2 separate regions of the Homo sapiens genome follow, and region 1 is linked to region 2. The links come from fine-mapping of genetic effects on gene expression. A gene starts in region 2. The other region holds a variant in brackets. All regions are shown on one strand. Distances are from middle to middle. Region 1 holds the start of MIR4423 (microRNA 4423). Region 2 holds the start of DNAI3 (dynein axonemal intermediate chain 3).

What was found. PIP is the estimated chance that this variant, and not a neighbour inherited with it, causes the effect.
Region 1: its variant is fine-mapped to the expression of DNAI3 in nasal epithelium (TOPMed, PIP 0.94).

Annotation. Positions count from the first base shown.
Region 1 is chr1:85,129,172-85,138,300 of GRCh38, reverse strand. It overlaps DNAI3 (dynein axonemal intermediate chain 3), which reads right to left. Exons shown (of 23, transcript NM_145172.5): 22 at 8,189-8,311; 23 at 5,163-5,446. The coding sequence ends at 5,303. MIR4423 (microRNA 4423) reads right to left here and starts at 4,507; the gene lies at 4,428-4,507. The variant T/G (reference allele first, on the strand shown) is at 4,421.
Region 2 is chr1:85,058,327-85,067,488 of GRCh38, reverse strand. DNAI3 (dynein axonemal intermediate chain 3) reads right to left here and starts at 5,162. Exons shown (of 23, transcript NM_145172.5): 1 at 5,003-5,162. RefSeq lists an enhancer at 5,027-5,527.

The DNA of each region.
Region 1 (9,129 bases), 71 kb before region 2:
TGAAATCTTCTATTTTACAACTTTCTTCCTTTTCTTAAGAAAAAAAAGAATAAAAACATCTCAGAATATCACATATACAGATGAGTTTGGGAAAGCTTATTTTCTGTCTTTTTAAGTTTGGAGCATTGGCATTGTAGAAAAACACAACCTATATTATCTGTCATACTCACCGTCTATGCTTTTTATGTCATATTTGTTAACAAGAAAGCATTTAAAAGCAATTACACAACTTTTAAAAATCCATCGTTTCCCAATAAGCTCCCAAGGCTGGTTTTGCTGGTGTGCAGGGTTCTGCTCTGACAGTGTGTGCTGTTTCACATGAGCCCGTGCCCGCAGAGAGCTGATCAGCCATGGCAGGAGGAAATTGACCACACAGGGGTTCATCAGCCCTTCACTGAGATATTTAATTTCCGTTGTGAGGACCTTGCTCAGTTGCACAGATCTGCCCTGGCAATGGCAACTTAGCAACCCGGTGGAGCAGCGCCGACCCTGGGCAGCACTCCAAGGTAGAAGGGTGCAGGGAGATGTTAATTATTTACAGTGCTGGATTAGTGAAGCCGTGAAGAGCACCTAGGCCACCATCCAACTGGAGTTAATTGCCTTTTCATCTGAAGTGCACACACACGATGTGCTTATCTGAGGACCTGAAAATATGCTGGTTTAATTACATGTTTCTTGGCGGATAAAAAGCAATTTGTAAAGCTGAATGATCATTAAATTTAATTGAAATTAATCAAATATTAGAATGATCAATTTTCTGAGTAGCATTATCAGTTCTGCAAAAAGGAAAGCTGTTCAAATTTATTTAAATTTTATGTTAAATAGTATGTCCAACACTTGTGGTCTCATATTAAGATGATCAAAGGCTAATATTAAACCAGGCATGGACAGTCACTGCTTAAGTTGCATTTGAGTCTGGGAAACATTCCTGTTATTATTAGTGGCAACAAAAAGTTAAAATCAGAGATTACTACATAGAACAAAGAGGAAACACTACGTTTCTCTGGTGTGTGTGTGTGTGTGTGTCTGTGTGTGCACATACACCTGTGACCAAGCAAGAACAGGCAACAACATTCATTAAGCGCCAACTATATTCCAGGTGCTTTATATACATTGTCTTTGTATGGGGTAGGCTAGGTATTATTATTATCCCCATTTACAGACAAGGCATCTAAGACTTAGGGGATAGTGCAGTTTGCCCAAGGTGATGAAGATGGGATTTGGACTCAGGTCTGCCAGGACCTAAAGACCCCTGTCTTTTCACTACACTGTAGACCAGACCAAATGACTTAAGGTCAGAAGATCAGATCGACTCACAATGGGTGGTAGGGGAAAGGGTTGGAGCTGTGGGGATTGGAAGGAGGCATACCAGTTAATTCTATTTGCATTCACACCTGATATTCCTACATCTTCAGTACAGGTGGTTAGCATCCTCGCTTGAGGCTCAGCTGTGTTCTTTACTGGGATTCAGCATGCCTGGCCTTGTCTGCCAAATGGAAGTTCTGGGCCAAACAAAAGGACCTTAGCTTAAGGGGTTGAAGAGCCTCAGAGAAAACTCATCCCAGAGAAGGAAGAGACATCACTATGAGTTTGTCTGTTTCAAAGTCTTAGTGTCCAAGAGAGGTATCATGAATAATTAAACCACGCTGAGTGGTCTGAGATGAATCGTATCATCTTCTGTCCTTTCCTCTTTTCTTCCATAGGTACCAGACCTGCATGAGCTCTGAAGGCTCTGCCTTGCTTCTTGCACCTCTGCTACTGCCTTGGTGTTTGCTTCTCGCTGAACTTGAACTAACCCAGAAGCATTGTCCCAGCACCTTCCCCCACGTTACAGGCCATTAGGCAGCTCTAGCATTTTGAGAGAAGGGATCCCTGAGTGCCTGGTGGTTGTGGGCTTGAACATATGTGACTCCATCTTCATCCCAGTGGCCACTGGACACACTTGGGGGCACTCTGCAGAAGGCTAGCATACCTGAGAAGCAAGTGGGCCAAGGTCCCATGAAACCTGGGCTATGGCTGCTTATGTGTCCTCTCGGTGGCCACAGGTGATGAGACTCAGGAAAACTGAGGTTATAAACACACAATGAAAACACCACACCAGGTCTGGGAGCAGTAGCTCATGCCTGTAATCCCAGCACTTTGGGAAGCCGAGGCAGGTGGATCACTTGAGGTCAGGAGTTCAAGATCTGCCTGGCCAACATGTGAAACCCTGTCTCTGCTAAAAATACAAAAATTAGCTGGGAATAGTGGCACATGCCTGTAATACCAGCTACTCAGGAGGCTGAGGCAGGGGAATCACTTGAACCTGGGAGGTAGAGGTTGCAGTGAGCCAACAACGAGCCACTGCACTCCAGCCTGGGCAACAGAGTGAGACTCTATCTCAAAAAAAAAAAAAAAAAAGAAAAAAGAAAAAGAATAAAGACAAAAATCACACTGAACTAATAATAACTGCTATCATAACCATAAGGAGCCCCATGTTTAGTTTCTATAGCAAGAATGTTACAACCATTTTGTATTTGTAAATCAGGCAAAACATATTTACTGCTTGCCGTATGCTAGCCACTATACTAAGCTTTATATTTGCTAACCCTAAGGCAGACACTTATTCAATATCCATTACTCCAGTCCTTTATGCTAACAACACCCTGCTTTTATTTGAGACAACAATGTGCTCAGCCTCCAGTCATGGTTTATGACACTCAGTTATGACACACCTGTTCTCTGTAGTCCCAGCTTCTTTTCATTGAAGAGAGGGAGACTGGGTTATGGAACACACTTCTAGAAGACTACAGGTGAAACCCCTCACCTCTTTCAGGCCTTGTTCAAGTGTCACCTTCCCTGACCATCCTGTTTAAAATGGTAGACCCTGGCACATAGAAGGCATTCAATATATTTTTTTAAAGTCAGGTGTGGTGGTATGTGTCTGTAGTCCTAGCTACTCAGGAGCCTGAGGCAAGAGGATTGCTTAAGCCCAACAGCTTGAGGCTGCAGTGAGCTATGATTGCATCACTGCACTCCAGCCTGTGCAACTGAGTGAGGCCCTGTCTTTAAAAACAAACAAACCATTTTTTAGAGTGAACTCGTGAAAATAAAATTAGAAAAATCTCTGGAGAAAGTACTGAACAGCAAGCACAGATGCCCAGGGAGAGGAAGATGCCTGGCATGTTTGGTGAACAGGAGGCCAGCATGACTGGGATGGGTGTGATGGAGGGGAGAGGAAGGAGGGATGGGACCAGGTGACAGTGGAAGGCCTGCCTGTACAAGGGCTTGCAGGGCACAGACAGGCATTGGGAACATACTCTGAGTGATCATACTATGAGGTTGAGGAAGGATTCTGGGCAGAAGGATGACAGCATCTGACAGCATCCATTTAAAACTACCATCTGGCTGTGGCTGAAAGTGACTGAAAATGACAACATAGAAACAGGGAGAACAGGAGGCTGCTGCAAAATCCAAGCTGATGATGATGCAGCTTGGACCATGGTGGTAGCAGTGAGGGAGAAGAGAAGCGATCAGGTTTCACATGCATACTGAACGTGTAGTCAACAGGACTTGCTGACAGATTGGATGTGGATTGTGAAAGAAAGGAGATGAAGGATGACCTTAAGGCTTTTGCCCCAAGCAGCATCATGGCTGGGAGGACTGCTGGAGGAATGGTTTTTGAAGGGAAACATCAAGCACTCAATTTTGGACATGTTTAAGTTTGAGATGCCTATTAAACATCCAAGTGGAGATACAAAAGGTCAAATAGATACACATCTCTTGATTTTAGAGAGAAGGCCAGGTCAGGGACAGAGGTAGTATCTAAAGCCTTGAGAGTGGATGCATGCACCTAGAAAGTGAGTGCAGAAAAAAGAAAGAATAAAAGAAGTTCAAGTGTAAGGATGAGCCCTGGGATATTTCAATCATGATGACAATAATATGTGCCAGGCACAGGCCCCTTATCTGCAGGGGCTCATTTGCCCCTTACATAAATGCTGCAAGTTAAGTTCTCTCAACCTGACTTGATGGAAGGGGAATCTGTTTCACAGAGCTGGGTCATCTGTTCAAGGGCACACAGGTGGTTAAGAGCTAAAATCTATCCGACAAAGTTTTCTTTCCTCTAGCAATCTAACTTATAAACCTTGGTATTATCCTTTGTCTTCCCTTCCCCATCCAACCAGCCTTTGATTTCTATCTTCACATTAAGCTTTAGTACAGGGCATCCTAATCCTTTGCCCTGAACAATTCCTCCTGCCTCCTAATAGGATTTCTTGCCATGAGACTCTCCCCTGCTCTAGTTCATTCCTTGTTTCCTAAAAATAAAGCTGATTGGGTCAACTTCCTGTTTAGACCTTCCATTCATTCCCCATAAATTCTAATCCAGCTCCTTAGCTTGGTAAACAGGAGCCTTCACAATCTGGCTCCAAGCTCTTTTGTG[T/G]CTCAGTTTCACATACTGTTGTTGCTTTTTGGTGCCTATGCTAGGCTTAAACAGCATGGGAACAAAAAGGCAACTGCAGTACATGATGTCAGGCACCTGATGGTGTGAGCTGTGTCTTGTTCCACATCTCAGGGGAAAGCTTTCTGCTTGTCACCATGAAGTACCATGTTTGGTGTAGTATTGTTTTACACGCCCTTCATCACATTACAGGAATTCTTTCTGTAGATGCCAAGAATGTATCATTATTATCATGAATTGATGTCAACTTTTATGAAATGTTTTTCTGCATCGACTTGGCATCATAATTTCTCTCTTTTGATTAATCACTGATTTATTTTCTACTCTTAAATTAACCTTATCTTCCTTGGATAAACCCAACTTTGTCTTCATGTGTTAACCTCTTTAAAATATATATATATATATATTTCTGGATTTGATTTGCTAATATTTTGTTTAGCACATGGCCCTACAGTTTGTACAGTGGCCAAGGGGAAGCACTTTTTTTGGAAAGGTGGCCAAAAGCAAGCTGATAAGTAGGAGCAGTTTGATTTCCCCTTCTGCCTGGAATGAGGGCCTCTGTGTGGACAGCAAGGATTGGGATGGAAGGGACATCCAAAGTTCTCTATTATTATAGGAAAATACAAATTTTGTTATTGAAAACATTCATTAAAAAAGAACACTTTCATATTCAGTACAAAATTTGGTACATACATGGTACAAAAACTGAAATAGATCTCATTGCTAAAATTCAAAAGTTTTAATAGCAGGGAAATAAAAGTCTATAAATGAGCCTATATATATATATGTTCAGCATGCCAGTTCACCTGACATAAAAATAAATAGAGGGAAGAAGTCCCCAAAACACCCCTTCAGGAAGCTTTTTTACATCACCTCCATGTATGACCCCTTCTCTGTGACTTTGATTAGGCCAAGGTTGATAAGAACAGTCTTTTCCAGTTCCAGATAACTCTCATAGTCCATTTTTAATTCAGCCTGCATTTGTTCTTTTGACTTCTGATATGTTTTCTGGGGGGGGAAGAAAAACAAGACATCCCTATAAAACACTGATATCTAAAAATACCAAAGGATGAGAAGGGGCTGTTTGTGAATAGTTGACCTGGCTGCTGTTTTCTGGAAAGGGCTGGATGGAGGGCAGGAAGGCAGGAGGGCAGGTGGGCAGGAGGCAGTCAGATGTGCTGGGAAAGGAGGGAGTGGGGGGAAACATGGTCCCCAACCACTGTCTCTCAAAAAAAAGTCCCTTTTTCCGGCCTTCTTCCCTATAACTCTTGTTTCCCTTATGTAGACTGGAGGGTGACTAATAGCCTAGAGGTTGCAGAATTCTTTTGAAATCCCCCTCTTCTGAGTCCATATGGATGGCATAGCTTGTGGATCACACGGCAATGACTACTGTCCCAGGCTGAGTCTCCAGCTGAAATTCTGGTTAGGAAAATTCCCATTTCATATGCAACTAGAGCAGTGATTATTATTGTCCATTGAGGAGTGAGCTGTTTCCAGATTTTATGTTTGCAAAGAGACAGGTGCATGATTTTCCTGAAATCTGTGTTGAACTGTACAGCCTCAACCTGGCACCTGGTGAGCACTCACACAGGCCAGCCTTGCTGGACGAACATGTGAACACTTTCTATGTGCCAGTTATTGGCTAAGTGCTGTAAATATTTTAACTCATTTAAGCTCCATTGCAATCTTCTGAGGTTGTTACTGTTGCCATTTCCCCCTTTATCAGCCGTTGCTTAGAAGGAGACATTTCTGACTAACATTAGTTGTTTTTCCTTAGTGACTTTTTTTATGTTCTCAATGTAACAGAGGAACCCTTTCAAATTCATTCACATACCCACAATCTATTCATAGTTGCAGAGAAAATTTGAGAAGTGGTGGCTTTACTTAAAAGAGGGCACCATATCAAATGGAAATAAAGTTACAAGAAGTTGGGAACGTTTTGGAAATTGAAAAGTATAATACAATTTAAGATATTATTATTATAATATTCAGGTGTTTAAAAAGTATTTCACATGCAAATTATTTTTGGATTATCCACAATTCTACTCGCTCCCACTGATGTAGATAATTAGGAGCTGTTGCTATGGTATTTAAACACTCATAATAATCGTGGATAATTGCTGGGGAAGGGGAAGGGTGGCAGATTCTCTCCCACAATAGAATCTCAACAAATCAACATTTGTTAAGTGCAAAAGAACAAAACTAAGATCAATTTGTTTGTAGCAGTGGAATGCAATGAAAGTTTAATTAATTGGCATTCTTTTACACTTTGTCACCAAACATGTTTTGAAATGAGATCCTCTGCTTTTATTGCACTAATTAGTATTTATCAATGAGTGATAATGTTAATTTATTTGCTAATGCAGCACATTACAATATTTCCACATGCTAATGCTTTATTTTTTTTTTTTTTTTTTTGAGATGGAGTTTCGCTCTTGTTGCCCAGGATGGAGTGCAATGGCACAATCTCGGCTCACCATAACCTCCGCCTCCCAGGTTCAAGTGATTCTCCTGCCTCAGCCTCCCGAGTAGCTGGGATTACAGGTATGTGCCACCATGCCCGGCTTATTTTGTATTTTTAGTAGAGACAGGGTTTCTCCATGTGGGTCAAGCTGGTCTCGAACTCCTGACCTCGTGATCTGCCTGCCTCAGCCTCTCAAAGTGCTGGGATTACAGGTGTGAGCCACGGCGCCCAGTGCCACATGCTAATGCTTTTGAGACTGAAGGCCTCATGTGAGTAACTGTGTTTGAGGATGTATGTATTTGGCTATACGGAACCTACAGATGAGATCAATGATGAAATGCTGGTAACAAAAGAGCAAAGGAGAGAGGGAGCAAGAGGGAAACAGAAATTGAGACTGAGGTGATCTCAAGTGAGAAAGAGAGAAAAGCCTAATTCACAAAGTATTTAGAAGCCCAAAATTCCAGTGGGCAAGGGAAGACCAGCAGAGTCACAGAATTCGTATCAAACAGGGAGAAGCTGAGAAAGGGAGCATGGGGTGCTTTAGAGCTTAGGTTCTTTTTTGGCAGAGTTTAAGATGGATGTGCCCTGTACCAAATTCTCCTCTATTTCAAGTTTCATATCTTCAGCATATCATATACAGTAAAATTCACCTCTTTCTCTCTACCCCCTCATATCTATTTATCTATCTATCTATCTATCTATCTATCTATCTATCTATCTATCTATCTATCATCTATCTAATCTATCATCTATCATTATAATTATAATAGCACTATTTACTGAAAGTCTATTTGTCACTTTCTTTAACTGACAGCCTTACAGTAATCCTAGTTATTAGTATTCCCATTTTCAAGATAAGAGACCTGAAGCTCAGCAAAGGTGACAGCCTTGCTCCAAATCTCACAGCTAGTCAGTGGCAGAGTTGGGATTTGAGCCCACGTGTCTTGATTCCATATTCAACTCTTTTTGCACCACCTTCTTTAATGCATTATTCACCAGATATTAAAATTCTATAATGAAAGCATTCAAATTTTGAATTAAGGTATCTGTACTAAAGGACTTTGAAATTATAGAAAATTTCAGAAACTTAAATTGGACAGAATCTCACTACGTGTCTAACTGGCAGTGAGCTAGGAAATCAAAGGAATGCCCTCTTGACTCTCATGAGAACAAGAGAAGAATGTGAAAAAGTATAACTTTTCTATGGAAACTGTGGATTAAGCCAAACAAATATATTTCCACTGGTGTTCGAGGAAAACATCTTTCATTTCTGAAATTTAACTTACAACTTTTTTCTTTGCCATTTCTAGTTCCATTTCTTTCTTTTCTTGCTCACGAATTTTTTTGCGCTGTTCTACGTATTCCAGATGCTTGACTTCTCTTTCAAAATAGTGGTTGACACTTGCCATCTGTTAGAAACAGAAGTCCATGAGAGGGTGACAGGCAGGAAGCCCCCATGACCTTTACAAGGCTCTGTTAGAATTTCTGCTGCTTGTAATTAGGTAGACGACCTACCTAATCTACCTCCCTAATCTACTTGATCATTATCTAATGATCATCTACCTAATCATTATGTAGATTATCTATTTTGTGATACTTTAAATCTTTTAGGTGAATATAATTTGGAAATTGTATTCACAGGCCCACTACCAGAGGAGCTGGTACAATTCAGGGGCTACTGTGCTAACATTTAGGGCTCTGTGACTTGGAGGTTTCCAAAGTAGGGTTGGAAGGAGAGAGCTGCAAAAATGTGCAATTTTGTAGTAGAAATATTCAGGGGTTGCTTTTTCCCCATTTCTTCCTTCTTCCTTCTAAATCTGGGGGAAGTTTCATATCATCAATCAAACTTAGAAAACCCAGATGAGAGTATCAATGTAGATCCTAGAGGGACTGGAAGCAGAGCTGAATTCCTGGTCCCTGGAGGGCTTCGAGTGTAGGCATAGAATAGAAGCAGGAAAGTCAGCAGAGACCTTGGGGAAGGCAACCAGGGCAGAGACAGCCTTTTGCCTGCCAGTAACTAGGCTGATGTTTGGACTTGCAGCAGACTGCAATCTATATGTTTAATGTTCATTGTATATACATTTATATATTTCTATTCATTGATCTTTTTAAAGCCTCATTATTAACATTGTTTGAAACACTTGGGTGGTGGGTACAGTGTGGGGGGTGCAGAATACCGCCAGTTCAGCTGTGCTGCCTGCTATACTCCAAGTTGGGTTGGGAGCCG
Region 2 (9,162 bases):
CAAGTGTCCTGTTCTTTTCAAACGCTGCTATTAAATACTCTGTAGATAATTTGAGTTTCCAGTTTTCAGGGAAAAACAAAGTCAAATTTTTGGCAATAAATTAGGCACCAAAATTGGAATGTGCATTAATGCAAGCTGCCTTACCTGAACAGCTCATTTACTACTTTCACAAATGTTAATTGACTTCTGTCTAAATTACTGACTAGTGACTAAGGGCAGAGTGACTAGTGACCAGGTACTAGTGACCAGGTTGTTCTAAAGGCTTTTAGGGGTCTTAATTCTTCTTCACTAAAAAGCATAATATCTACATTTCTAGGCACCATCGATAGAAACATTTATAAGCTGAAGAGAGCCCGGTGAATATAGTCTAAACTGAAAGGAAAATGATTACTTTGGGAGTAGCCACCTTATATTGTATTTCAGTTTCAGGCAAAATTTTGCAGTTTATTTTAGTAATTGTAAATAATGAAAATCCTACCAACATTATGTCTAGAAAATAAATAACTTTTAATTGGGGGTATCGAAACCAAATGAATAATACACTTTTTATAATTTCAATAAACACATTTATTCAAGGTTTATTTTTTATGTAGATCTTTCTTTTTAAAAACAAATCCCCAACAAAGATATTACTTTCAAATTATAGCAGGGCTTACTGAAGTTTTTTTCATAAAATTAATTGAATATTTCATAAATGTGTTATATTTAACAAACTTTTTTCTATTAAGTTGCATATTAAAAGCTTATGAAAAAATTTTCAATATCCAATCCTACTTTAGTCTAAGTTTACTTTGAAATATGCATAACATTTTTTCTGTTCCCAGCTGAAATCAATTTGTAATTATTAAGAGTCGCAGAAGAGGCCAGGTGCAGTGGCTCACGCCTGTAATCCCAAAACTTTGGGAGGCCGAGGCGGGCAGATCATGAGGTCAGGAGATCAAGACCATCCTGGCTAACACAGTGAAACCCCCGTCTCTATTAAAAATACAAAAAAATTATCCAGGCGTGGTGGCAGGCGCCTGTAGTCTCAGCTACTCGGGAGGCTGAGACAGGAGAATGGTGTGAACTCAGGAGGCAGACGGAGCTTGCAGTGAGCCGAGGTCATGCCACTGCACTCCAGCCTGGGCAACAGAGCAAGACTCCATCTCAAAAAAAAAAAAAAAAAAAAAAAAAAGAGTAGCAGAAGAGATAATTCGTCTACTCCTAAAATCAATGTTGTGCCTAACCCAGTGGCTTGTGTTTTGACTGGTTTTCAAACCACTAGAGCTGAGTGTATTTCAAAATAGAAATTTTGGAAGGTAACACTTAGAAATGTTTAAGCATTTTTATTAAAAATATTCTTGATATTTAAACTACTTATTTTCTTTGTAAATTAATTTACCCATTTCAGAACACCTTTTGCCATCAATGCACAAAGGTCACATTTTCTAGATTCTACGTTAACAACAAGAGACATTAGAGGTTGACAAAAGTGTGTATTGGGTAAGTCCCCTGCATAACAGATCAAAACCTGTGATGGTGCACCACTTGATTACGAGGAACCCTGCATTCACAGCTGTCTACGATCTGCTTCCAAACTAACTCTCCAACTTGCCCATGACTATATCCTTTTATGATGCTTCTATTATTCAGGAGGTGAACTACTATAGATGAAGGCATAAGTAACATAAATTAAATTGTCATAATACAGTGATTTAAACAGCTATTAATCTCCTCTCTTCACTTTATTCATGCAATGCATTGTGAAAGTTGTCAGAATCAGCATGGAGCCACTTGTGTTAAAAACTCAGACAAACACAGCTAGGGAAGGCCATGAAGGGAGTATATGTCACAAATGCCTGATAACAAGAACTATCACAAAAGACTATACAGAATCACAAACTTGCATAAAGGCCATTGCCACTCTACACACACACACACAAATACTTCTGCAAGGATATCTGCCCAGGAACTGCCTGTCCAACCTCAGACTGGTGCCACCCTTGTCACTGATTCTGTAGCCAAGGATAACTATCTGAAGACAATGACATAATCCTCCTCATTTTTCCTTTAAAAACGTTTGTGTCCTTTTATCTCCCTGAATATACATATAGTTTACTACCGCATGCATCTTCCCATTGTTAATGCCTATTCTCAAATAAACATTTTATTTTAGAGAGTCCCCCTCTCTGCTTGCTATCTAGGTTGATAGCACACACCTGTTTACATGCTCTCATTTGTTGCCTGTGTGTATGTGTGGCTTATTCCCAGCCAAGAGATCTTGATTATGAAAGGACTTGTAGCACTGGCACCTTCTCTTTAACTGGGTTCTTCCTTACGAAAGTCTTATCTTCCCAGGTCTTCTTCAATTAGCTGACCTCATCTAGGTGGTCATCATCCTCTTTCCTCTTCCCAAATAATTTATAAGCTCATAATGCTTGTTTCCATCTTTCTACATTTATTTATTTATTTAAATTGAGACAGAGTCTTGCTCTGTCACCCAGGCTGGAGTGCAATGGCGTAATCTCAGCTCATTGCAACCTCCGCCTCCCGGGTTCAAGCGATTCTCCTGCCTCAGCCTCCCAAGTAGCTGGGATTACAGGTGTCCACCAACATGCCCAGCTAATTTTTTATTTTTTAGTAGAGATGGGGTTTTGCCATGTTGGCCAGGCTGGTCTTGAACTCCTGACCTCAGGTGATCTGCCTGCCTCGGCCTCCCAAAGTGCTGGGATTACAGGCGTGAGTCACTGCACCCAGCTTTTTATTTTATTTTTAAGAGGTGAGGTCTGGCTTCGTTGCCCAGGCTGGTCTAGAACTCCTGGCCTCAAGCAATCCTCCTGCCTCGGCCTCCCAAAATGCTGGAATTATAGACGTGAGGTACCTCTCCAGGGATATCTTTAAAACAAACAAACAAACAAACAAACAAACATTGATTTAGAATAAAACCCAAGACTAACATCTTGGGCCTCTGGTAAATGCGTCTGCAAGAACTATTGATTCTCAGTAAATCTTCACTAAGACCCTGATTAAACTTCAAGATTCTCCTGGGTCCTTCAGCCATATTTTGGCAAGTATACAACATCCACCCCTAGAGACAACTATTCCTACAATGTCTATTAGTCTATACTCTTGTTTCCTTCCTTCCATACCTATTTCCACTTCTTTCCAAGATTGGATATTCACTTATTTGAGTAGATGCTATCCTATTACTTCTCCCTTCCAAATATCTTCTGAATTCCAAGCCCTTCTCTCCCACAGCCTCCTCTGGTTCAGGTCTTTAACATGTCCTCCAAAACTGGAGCTCCAACCCTGTTTTGTGCCATGAACCTTTGGCAGCCTGGTGAAGCCCATGCATCAAATAAAAACATGGGATTACAAAGAAGACAGATTATATGGAAATATAGTTATTAAAATATTTTTTAAATTATGATAAAATAATTTGTACTTTATTAACACGTTAAATAACAAAATCTAGCTGTGGTTCTAATAACTACCTTAATTGTGAGGTAATGATGAGTATAAATAATATATTTACAATCTCTTTAATGTAATATGAAAAGAGTTACTAACAAAGTCACAGGCCTGTGAGTACTACTGTGGTTTGTTACCAATTGAATACATTTCAATTGGTGGTTAGTGAAAATAAATATGTAATTAAAAAAATCCACAGATTCTCCTCCCTGAATCCTCTGCCCTAGATCATGGACACTTAACTGGCCTCTCTGCCTCTGTTCTAACCAGAACAACTACTCAAGAGGCCAACCTCAGAGCTCTCCAAAAATGCATCTCTTATCAAGTCTCTTCCCTGTATAATGACTTTTTATGGGTCCCTATCATTCACAGTAGCATTCTCTTCCAGATTGTAGAAATGGAGCTCATTTGAAATGCAAATTTCCTGGACCTCCTTTGATTTTGCTGGTCTGGGTTGAGCCTGGGACTCCGCATTTTTAAAAGCATTGTGAGACAGTCTTGCACTGGTGGTCTATACACCAGATTTTGCAAAACAAAATAGAGTCTGAACTCACATAAGTATGGCCTTCAGTACTTTCACAGTGTGCCTCACTGCGTCAACCTTTCCAGTTCTATTCCAGCCTCACACGGTTTCCATTCATTCCCAAACAGTCGAGGACTTTCCCACCTCCCTCTCTGGAGAATCCCCTTCCCTCCCACCCCTCCTGCTGCTCCTGGTCCACACCATGCAGGCATCTCTCTGCTTGCTTCAATCTTTCTCATCATTCAAGGCAATTATGAACTTTTCCCCCAAAGCCGAAAGCCTCCCTGACTTCCTCACTCAGGCTGAAACAATCTTGTTCTCCCTGACACTTTCCAGTCATACTATGTGTAATTACTTATGTCAGGCCTCTGCAAAGGCAGAGGGCTTCAAACTCTGAGCTTCCTAAAAGATTGCTGTGAATTCATTTAGCATTCACCATACACAAGAAGAAGGAGAAAGTATTGCGCAGCAATTAGGTACTGGGTAAACTAGTCACTAGGGGAATAAGACAATGTCCTTACTTTCAAAGAGTTTGTGTTCCCTGTTCATCTTCCTCACTGTTTATCTACTCTAGCCCTTTCTAAACAGTCCTGAAGTAATCTATTTCAGCCCACATTAATCTTTTATTGTTTGACCCCCGCCCCTAGACGGATAATCAGAATCATGCTGTTTTGGCATTCATTCATTCATTCATTCATTCATTCATTCATTAACTGACTCATTCATGGTTTATTGAGTTCCTACTATGTACTAGGCAATATGATAGTCACTGGGTATATATAACATGGGAACAAGACAGTACATGCCCTTAAAGTTCTTAGAGTGTCGTTAACTGCTCTCTCGTTGCTATTTTTGTTTCCCTCACGAGGCTGGAAGCTCTTTGAAAGCAGGGAAAGACTTGTGTTTTTTGTAGTCTTCACTGCCACTAGCCTAGCACATTGCTGACACAGCGAGTGTTCAAATACCCTTGAAAGAGTGAGTAAAATACTTGTTTTCCAAGCCGCCTTTCCCATTCAGAGCTTCTCTTACCTGATACTGCTGATCTGAAAGAAAAGGAGCCTCTTTGCAGTGCCCTCAGGAAAAGCTCCTTCGAGAGCTGGAGGTGGGAGTTTGACTCTCCTCTCTCAGAAAAAGAAATCGCAAGGGCACAAACCGCAGCAACTCTGCCGACTGTTGCCAGGACGCATCTGTCGCTAAGAGAAAAGAGGCGAGTCCTCTGCGAGACTGACAGAGCATCTCTACCAATACAGTGTCCGCTCCCTAACAGTATCTTTCAAAGCAGACTTGTGATTGGTTGCCACTATGTGACGTCACTCAACGCGAACCGGGTGAGGCCAGCAGCTTTCCACTACCAAGGAAAGAGTTTTGTGTCTTAAGTATATTAATGACAGTGGCCCGGCCTGACCCCAGGTCTAACAGGCTCGGTCCATGCCTCACACCCACCGCAATCTCAGCCAGAGAAGAATCTTTCTGGGGTGTGGACCCTAGGAACCAGGAGAGAAAATGTTAAGGAGGCTGCCCGCTCAGAATCCTTTCGGGCAGCTTTCCTGCCCACCCCCTGCAGCGAGCTGGGCCCTCCTAGGGAGTGGAGAGGAAGCTGCGCCCCACTGGTTGTCGTGGGCGCCCCAGAACCCTAATGGGTTACATTTCCTTCTTGCCAGAATAACTTTTGTTTAGAATTTGACTCAAGCTGTAAATATGAGTCTCCGGGGAAGAAACTTGAATCCGTGAGTAACCCAAGGTTCATTTTATCTGTGATTAGGAGTCCGGTGGGATTCATACAGTGACGCTCAACTCTCTGAACACTGTTCTCCTCCTTTCCCTTAAAAAATAATTATAACTGTCTAATTTGTAAAGTGGCAGAATTTAATAAAGTAATGTAATTGACTGCTGTAATTGGTGTAAATAAATTTTCACACCTAATTTAAATAAAATCTTTAATTGAGAAAAGGCTGATCATTTATAACATATGAGAGTTCAGGGGGCTGCTGCGGTGGCTCATGCCTGTAATCCCAGCACTTTGGGAGGCTGAGGAAGGCAGATCACGAGGTCAGGAGATCGAGACTATCCTGGCTAACACGGTGAAACCCCGTCTCTACTAAAAATACAAAAAAATTAGCCAGGCGTGGTGGCGTGCACCTGTAAGTCCCAGCGACTCAGAAGGCTGAGGCAGGAGAATCGCTTGAACCTGGGAGCCAAGATCGCACCACTGCACTCCAGCCTGGGCGACAGAGCGAGGGTCCGTCTTAAAAAATAATAATAATAATAACTTCCTAATTTGTAAACTGGCAGAATTTAATAAAGCAATGTAATTGACTTCTGTAATTGGTCTAAATTAATTTTTACACCCAATTTAAATAAAATCTTTAATTGAGAAGAGGCTAATCATTTATAACATATGAGACTTTAAGGATCCTGAATGAAGATTTTTACGTTATGTGCAGAAAGATTATATAGATTCTTTCAAATTTCTGAAGAATTTGTGTTCACAAAATTCAAATGAATTTTACAATACAAATTATGAAGGAAAAAAACTAAAAAAGAGGTATTATCTAAACATTCTGACAACTTTTTTCCAGCTTGTCCACTCCCAGGAAGTGGAAGATTCGTTTTCCCCTGGGCTCAGTCTTGAGTCTTCTTTTGTCACTCTTCGCACTCTCCTGGTGGCGTCGGCATCATATATTCCCCTTAGCTTCAGCCATCACCACTAAACACACTGGACTTCCATTTCTACATTCTCAGCCTAACATATCTCTTAAATTCCATACCTGAATTTCCTCTAGCTACTGGACATTTCCAACTACCTGTGTAGTTCAGTTCATGTTGTTTAATAGATGCTAAATAAAGATTAAATGTAGTGAATGAATGAATGACCATAGCACCACAACTTAGCAGAGCCAAAGTCAACTCATTATCTTTCAGAAACTTTTTTTCCTTCTTTATTTTCTACCCTAGGTAATAGTATCATTGTCCATCAGTTGCAAAACGAAATCTGAAAGTCATCCTTGACTCCTCTTCTACTGCCCACAGTCAACATATCATTTAAGTTCTGTCATTTTTCTTTCTTAATTGTCTCTCAAATAATCCATTTTCTCTTAGCCATCCTCTGCCTCTGCCTTATTTCAGATATGCCTTATCTCTCACCTAGACGGTAGCAATAGTCTTTTGACTTGTTCTATCTCTTTCCCTCTAATTTATTTGCCAAGTTGCCACATAATTTTCCATAGTTTGAATCCTGACGTCACCCTGCTTAAATATGCTCAATCTGGCATATGAAACCCTGTATAAACAGGGTTCTGAAAGACACTGGAAATAAATCTGGAAGGTAATTAGTTATTTTTCTAACCTCATTTCCTGCCTCTGTCCCCAGCCCAACCCACATTTTAGTCCAGTGCTTCTTAACTGAAGACCCTTAACAGCCAAGGAGCAGGAAATCACAGGGGCCAGGAGTGAGTAGTAGGTTGATGGAAAGAAGGTTTATAACATGAAATAGACTTCTGCAACTGAGACATATTTGTTTCATATAAAGAATTTATGAAGTTTTTGCATTTGGCTTTGCAATGGATTCGTGTTTGTTTCAATTTTTAAAAAAATGTCTAAAGCCACTATTAACTAAAATTGACAGAAAACTGAATAAACACAAAGAAACCTTAGGCAACTGTGACATGCTCATCCTGTGGTTTTGCACAGCCCCTGACATACTGCTGTGCAGGTCCAGGAGTGTGTGGGTCTCAGGTTGAGAGCCAGAGCTCTGGTTACACAGCTCCTGACTGGTCCCCTGTGCTGTGCTGGGTTACAACTGTGTGTCTGCTCATCCAGGTGCCACCACTTCTACCTCTGCCTCCATCTGTAATGCCTTTCTTCATCCTCATTACTTGGTAAATGACTATTTATTTTTCAAGACCCAACTCAAATGTCACCTTCTCTGTCCAGCCATACAGGCACTCGGTAGAATTAGACACTCTTTCCTCTATTTTTCCATTATAGCAAGTATTACATTGTGTTGCAATAGCTTGTTTAGATAGATGTCTCCCCCTCTAGACTTTAAGGCAGGGATGGTGTCTCATTACTTTATATTTCCTTTATATCCTTTATATCACACTGTGATATAATGTCAAACATAGATTTTGGTTTGTTATTGTTGTTTAGAGTGGGGATCTCACTATGTTGCCCAGGCTGGTCTTGAACTTCTGGGCCCAAGCCTTGGTGTCCCAAAGTGCTGGGATTACAGATGTGAGCCGCCATGGCCGGCTGGACATAGGTATTTAATAAAACATATATTTAATTATGTAATTGATTTACTATTCTTGGAAGTAAATCTAAAAGAAACTCTAACAGAAGCTTCTTTGTATTTTTCCAAATAATTTGCTTTCCTTAAAAAAAATTATAATCCTTCACGGTCAGATTTAAGGAAGTAAGAATTATATAACCTTGTGATCTGGCTGAGACACCAAGGCCTTCTGTCATCTTTTCTTTAGAGACATGCCAAGAGGATGTCCATTTGATGGAATGAGTCATAAGTCACAATACCAAGAAAGTTAAAAGTTAAATTGGAAATGTTTAGAAATTTCTTCATGTTACAAATTCATGATTGATTGACCATCTGTTCTTTCATGGGAGTGGTCAGAAATGAAATATCATCATGGTAGCTAGTGAATGTGTCCATGCTTTTCCAGGGGAGGTTGAATTGAATTTCCCTGAAACTTGAAGATATGTAAAAATTAGTTTTAGTTTTATTGATTGAGTGAACATCTAAAGAGTCAAGAAGTCATAATTGAAAATATTTCTCTGATTCTTTAAGGACATCTTGATAAGTTTCAGATTGGGTTTACAAAAGGACAATCTGATAAATTGATATGAGGTAGATTTTTACTAGTTATTTTGGTGAGTGACTCATTCTTTTTATGGATTTTTTTAAAAAGTTAGCTCAGAAACTAGGCGTGGAGGACCCTATTTTATGTCTGGAAGGGAGAAATGTTCTTGTTTGAGCCCTAAACTGCTGGGATTACTACATATTTTCCAAGCACTTGGGGAAACTACCACAACCTATTGCATGAGGAAGTGAGAATCATCTGAAGAGTACTCAGCTTCAGAAAGGAGAAAAAGAGACAAAAAAGCCTGACCCTGGGACAAAGATTTAGCTGTTGGAAGAAAGGGCCAATTTTGGCAATTCTAGAAAAAAAAATGGA